2 linked regions of the Homo sapiens genome follow. The protein of the gene in region 1 interacts with the protein of each later gene in a biochemical or structural test. Each region holds a gene or a part of one and is shown on either strand. Other genes may lie near its edges.

Region 1 (3,825 bases):
TTGCTTACTGAAATTAGACATCAGTCTTATCCCCAGTCCCAACTTAGCTACCCATGCAGAAGATACAGACCGTCCAGAAGATACATAACAAGCTGTCACCTTATTCCATAAAACTCTTTCCTGTTGTACCCAACACATAATCATGACTGCTCAGCCTAGCAAAGCAGTTTGATACGTTATAGGACAGGCTGTCAGAATAAAATTATGCACATTTTGCTATCAAACAATTCTGCTGTAAATGGTTCCTTTAAAAGAAACTTCTTGCTGCAGAAGAATTTCCCCTCCAGGAATAAAGGAAGAGTAAAATACTAATCTGCATTTCTTCAGAGGTGTGACACGGTCTACTTTATTACCATGTTATATAATAAACATATATAATGTAGAAATAAGGATTTTTATGCAGGTATGCATAGAATTATATAGAACTTTAAAAAGTTATTTTTTAAAATTTTTTCACATGGTGAATATTTTATTACAGTATATAACCATGTAGTATATAACATGTACATATTTTTATGTACAGTATATAACGTACATATTTTTATTACCTAGTATGTGTATGTAAAATCTATAGTGACTTTGTTTTGTGTATTGAAAACATCTTTGTAAGCTGCACATTTTTGTGGGAGATAAAGACTTCTTTTTTTAAATCTTAATTCAGGTGAAGGTACAAGTAAGAAGCTGGCGAAACATAGAGCTGCAGAGGCTGCCATAAACATTTTGAAAGCCAATGCAAGTATTTGGTGAGCTAAATTTCTTTGTATTCAGCAGCTCAAAAATATCATGGCTGAGGTAAGATTAAAAATTTGAACATGCTTACAAAAGCAACAAAGTGAACAGTTGTTAGCATCCTACCTCTCAAATTCTATTTCCTTATGAAAACTTATCATCCATTAAAGAAAACTTTATCCAATCAAATCCAGCAATTAGCTATTAAATGAAGGTGCTCATGAACTAGGCTTTACTGTTTTTTTTTTTTTAATGGGATACAACAGTAGAAAATCAGTGCTTCTTGCAAATATTAATATTAACATTTTGTATTTAGACTTTGATTATTTCTACATTGAAGAAAACAAAGTGTGAGATGGAGAAAGATCCACTAAAAGTACTCTTTTGGGAATTCTAATTTTGAAGAAGCAGGCAGAGGTTTTCTTTTATTATATAATGTATACCAAAAGAAGAGAATGTTAAGTGGGATATTAATTCTTGACATATCTTTCTAAAGTAAGATTTTTTTTTTTTTTTTTTTTTTTTTGAGACGGAGTCTCGCTCTGTCGCCCAGTCTGGAGTGCAGTGGCGGGATCTCGGCTCACTGCAAGCTCCGCCTCCCGGGTTCACGCCATTCTCCTGCCTCAGCCTCCCAAGTAGCTGGGACTACAGGCGCCCGCCACTACGCCCAGCTAATTTTTTGTATTTTTAGTAGAGACGGGGTTTCACCGTTTTAGCCGGGATGGTCTCGATCTCCTGACCTCGTGATCCGCCAGCCTCGGCCTCCCAAAGTGCTGGGATAGATTTTTTACTACTTTAGGTGTTTCTAGATAGAATATTGGTCCTGGAGCATCTCACATATTAAAGTAGTGTCCACTGGGTGCACTCTGGAGCTTGGCATGCTTTCAAGTTCTTCTTGTGCATACACTTACATATGCCTGAAGTACGATCTGTGTAATCAGCTTATAGTTGACAGTAGAGACCCAGGGAATTTGGGATGGGTTTTTTGTTCCCTAGTCATAGAAAGGCTTTTGGATTAGGGGTGTAGTTAGGTTCTCATGTAGTATTCCTCTCTTTTTGTAAATCATTCTAAACCGTTTGGGTAGTTTAGAACTAACCAGTGACATGGCAACCCTCTAGATAAGCAGCTGCCCAAGACAAGCCTTGCATTTCACAAGATGATGCTTGATTCTCTAGGGTCATGCATTATAATTGATCTATGCCAGGCTGGGCGGGGTGGCTCACGCCTGTAATCCCAGCACTTTGGGAGGCTGAGGTGGGTGGATCACTTGAGGCCAGGAGTTCAAGACCAGCCTGGCCAACATGGCAAAACCCTGTCTCTACTAAAAATACAAAAATTAGCCAGGCATGGTGGCAGGCGCCTGTAATCCCAGCTACTTGGGTGGCTGAGGCACAAAAATCGCTTGAACCCGGGAGGCGGAGATTGCAGTAAGCTAAGATTGTGCCCCTGCACTCCAGCCTGTGAAACCCTGCCTCAAAGAAAAACAAGGCCAGGCATGGTGGCTCACACCTGTAATCCCAGCACTTTGGGAGGCCAAGGTGGGCAGATCACTTGAGTCAGGAGTTCGAGACCAGCCTGGCCAACATGGTGAAACCTCGTCTCTACTAAAAATACAAAAAATTAGCCGAGTGTGGTGGCACGCTCCTGTAATCCCAGCTGCTTGGGAGGCTGAGACACGAGAATTCCTTGGACCCAGTAGGCAGTGGTTGCAGTGAGCTGGGATCGCGCCATTGCACTCCAGCCTGGGCGACAGAGCAAGACTCTGTCTCCAAACAAACAAAAAAAAGACATGCCAAATGACATGGCAGGTATTGGGTTCTCCCCCACTGGTGATGGCCATGCTGTTTCTGTATAGCCTGAAGGTGAACCCAACCATTAAGTACATTTGTAGAAATGAGGGGTATGGAGTGTCCTTTCTGCATCTTGGCACTTTGTCAGCAAAAAAAGCTAACAAACTTTACTATATTTGTGCTTCTTGACAGATAAAATGGGAATTACTAAGCTGTAATCAGGCCTAAAGTGGCCTGACTTAATACAGAGACTTTCTCACTTCTCCATCACAATTATTTGGGTAGCTTCGGCATGCAGCATTGTAAGTGAATACTCATATCTCATCAGCCTATGTAAAGCTTGAAATTCTCACAGTTGGAAAAAAAAAACCTTGAGGAAGTGGCAATAACTAAACCTCATTTGTCATGGAAAAATGACTCCAGTTGCCTAGGTGGTACTAACCTTGAAATGCCGCTTATTCAGTTTTAAGTACTGACCTGCTAAGTAACTAGTAATTCCAGACTCCCTAGAAGAGGTTGTTCTCTTTTTCCCTAATCATAATCCCCACTTGCTAAAACCAAATTCATCTAAGCCATCTATTTTCTGCAGGATACATGTAAATCTTAGAGGATTATCCCAGCACTGAGCAGATGATAGATCAAACAGATCTCTCTTCATAGTTCTGTGGATGAAAAAACAGTATTTACACATAATCTGTATTATTCACATTGCCAGGCTAAATTTTCTGGATCATTGTTACTCTTCTGTTTTTTGTATAGTTGTAACAGAGTATTCTTTAAATACATTTTTATGGCATGCCTATTATGTACAAAACACCACAAAGCTTATGTAGGTAAGTGATACATAGGCCCTACCTCAAGGAGCTTACTGTCTGAACAGGGGAGAGGTGTGGTGAAGGATGGACAAATTATATGTATTTGTAAGAGTATATAATTTATGGTAAAACAATTTCAAGAAAGGATTAAACCATGTGTTATAATGTTTCAAAGAAGGGAGAGATTATAAACCACTGGGGTAAAAGGATAGGCTTCTTGGAGGAAGTGACATTTGAGATATATCTTGGATGACCGATCAGATTCCCATAGAAGAGGTCTGAGAAAAGGGCATTCCATGTAGAAGGAATGACAAGAGCAAAGACATAGAGAGTTAATTAGAAAATGCTTGTCATTTATTTCATAATTCGGGGGAAATTATTTTGTTTTATAACACTTTTAAAAAATATTTAGCTTTGCAGTTCCTGACCCCTTAATGCCTGACCCTTCCAAGCAACCAAAGAACCAGCTTAATCCTATTGGTTCATTACA
Region 2 (2,593 bases), on another chromosome or scaffold:
GCAAGGACCAAAGGAAGTGAAGCAAGCCTATCTCATGGTTTCCACCCCAGGGGCACCACATCTGGGGCTCAATTCTGTGCCCCATTGGCTGAGGCTTGATCCAAAAACATGTCTGGGCCAAGTGCGGTGGCTCACGCCTGTAATCCTAGCACTTTGGGAGGCCGAGGTCGGGGGATCATCTGAGGTCAGGAGTTCGAGACCAGCCTGGTGAAGATGGTGAAACCCCATCCCTACTGAAAATACAAAAAAGTTAGCCAGGTGTGGTGGTACCCACCTGTAATCCCAGCTACTCAGGAGGCTGACACAGGAGAATCACTTGAACCTGGAGGCGGAGGTTGCAGTGAGCCAAGATCATGCCACTGCACTGCAGCCTAGGCAACAGAGCGAGACTCCGTCTCAAAAAATAAATAAATAATTAAATAATTAAATAAAATTTTTAAAAAAGGCTCATGACCTATAATCCCAGCACTTTGGGAGGCTGAGGAAGGAGGACCACTTGAGCACAGGAGTTTGAGACCAGCCTGCCTGGACAACAAAGCAAGACCCCATTTATTTATTTATTTATTTATTTTGAGACAGGCTGGAGTGCAGTGGCATGATCTCAGCTAACTGCAACCTCTGCCTCCAGGTTTAAGCAGTTCTCTGCCTCAGCCTCCCAAGTAGCTGGGATTACAGGCGCCCACCACCATGTCCAGCTAATTTTTGTATTTTTAGGAAAACGGGGTTTCACCATCTTAGCCAGGCTGGTCTTGAACTCCTGACCTCGTGTTCCACCTGCCTCGGCCTCCCAAAGTTGTGGGATTACAGGCATGAGCCACCGTGCCCGGCTGAGACCACATTTCTAAAAAATAAAAAATAAAAATTAGACTCTGTTTCAAAAAAAAAAAAAAGAGAGATGTCTGGCTGAACTGGACAACAGGCCACTGTAAGAGGGGAGGGCTATCAGCAACTGACCTGGCCACCAGCAGCTTCTCCATGCCTACAGAGGTCAAGGCCAGGCTCCAGCCTGGCAATCTAGAGTTGAGGGTGTAAGCCATGGGAGTGCTGTGACTGGCTGCAGGGCAGGCCACAGCCAGGAACTCACCGTTTCATACACAGGCTGTGCCAACTTCTCCCTCCGGCACCACTCTAGTAGGCACATCTTAGGGGTGATCTGGGCTGGGTATGCTCTCCTGGGGAAAGGAAGGGAAGCAGTTGGGGTCACCCACCATCACCGCTCCCTCCCTCAGCCAGGGCACTACTCAGCTCCTGAAAGGAGCTGCAGAAATGAGAGGAACTGAGACACCGAGCTGCTGCCTTAAGGCTTCTGTACTTGCTCCCCTAGGCTCCCATTCTTGTCCTACCAGCAGCTTGGACCTGGGTTCTCCCTAAAGGGAAGATGAATTTTGGCATGCTCAAGAAATTGTAAGGGAAGGGGGAATGAACTCCCAGTACTCTGAGGTCCAGACTGGAAAAACAATGTTCAACATCCAAGAAGGAAGCTTGCCACTCAAGACAAGATTAGTAGGGAGTGGGTGGAGGTGGGCAATGGAGGTAGCCAGACAATGGTCTCGGGGATCTAGCTCAGCGCCCATCCTGATTCCGCCTGCCAAGTGTCATGATCATCTGCTGCAGCCATGGACACTTGGAATCTGGTTTCAGAGTCAGCCTGTGACAGGGTGACACAGTGACAGGGTGGGAGGGGTCATATTCCAACTTCCCAACTGGAACTCTCCCTGGCATCTGACTGCCCAACAGCTATTCCCCACCACCCTGCTCCCCCTCTCCACACCTCTGCCAGACAAGACTGGCTCCTGTCTGGTCCTGGGGACTGGAGAAAGGCTCAGATCCCAGAGGAGGGCACCATTCAAAGCTGAGTCACAATCTGAGGCGTAAGCAGCTTGAGAGAGCACCACAGAGCTGGTGAGGGGCACTGGGTGTGGGTAGGGGCTGCAGAGCCAAATGAGGGCTAGGGTCCTGCTGTTGTTTGAGGAGCTTCATGCCAGGAGCCAGTTCCTCAGGGCCTTGGAAAAGCACAGACTTTCAGGAACAGGAGACAAGTCCCCCCTGCCCTGAGTTGTGGGAGGCGGTAAATCAGGGAAAAAGTAGAGTTCAGTTATCCTTGGGACAGCCTTTCAGGGACTATCTCCCCTGAAAGCACCTTCTATGGGATGCTGAAAATTTAGAACGAGTTTCCAAACCAACAAGACCTGTGGTCCCTACGTTTGACATTAAGCACATACAGCAGCCAGTGTGCTGGCCCAGTGGGACCCCAAGGGTGCTGGCCCTAGCCCAAGCTGAGGCCAAGCTGGAGACCTACCGGTCAAACTTGACAGCCATCTTAATGACACCAGAGGTATCTTCAGCTGGCTCCCCTGTCTGCTCTGAAGTCTTGGCTGAGAGCCTGGCCTGCTGGGCATCCAGCTCCTGTGTGGTCTCCTCATAGAAGGCACCAAGGCCAAAGGCCTCACTAGGGAGGAAGAAGCAGATCAGAGCAAACACTTTAGCGGAGCCAGCATCCAGGGTACTGCAGGACCCCAGGGCCCCACCACTGAGAAACTCCTCTACCACATACACCAAAACACCACCGGGGCCTGGCCATCAGAATGTGCCC

Evidence for each region.
Region 2: the proteins of PRKRA (region 1) and DUS2 form a complex in vitro, tested with the Homo sapiens proteins (one study listed by BioGRID).

Annotation. Positions count from the first base shown.
Region 1 is NC_000002.12:178,444,423-178,448,247, reverse strand, and holds part of PRKRA (interferon-inducible double-stranded RNA-dependent protein kinase activator A), read left to right. Parts: intron 1-661; coding exon 662-743; coding exon of another isoform or gene 744-792; intron 793-2,712; exon of another isoform or gene 2,713-2,822; intron 2,823-3,747; coding exon 3,748-3,825. UniProt on the Homo sapiens protein: Activates EIF2AK2/PKR in the absence of double-stranded RNA (dsRNA), leading to phosphorylation of EIF2S1/EFI2-alpha and inhibition of translation and induction of apoptosis.
Region 2 is NC_000016.10:68,075,211-68,077,803, reverse strand, and holds part of DUS2 (tRNA-dihydrouridine(20) synthase [NAD(P)+]-like), read right to left. Parts: intron 2,450-2,593; coding exon 2,300-2,449; intron 1,173-2,299; coding exon 1,085-1,172; intron 1-1,084. UniProt on the Homo sapiens protein: Catalyzes the NADPH-dependent synthesis of dihydrouridine, a modified base found in the D-loop of most tRNAs. Specifically modifies U20 in cytoplasmic tRNAs. Activity depends on the presence of guanosine at position 19 in the tRNA substrate.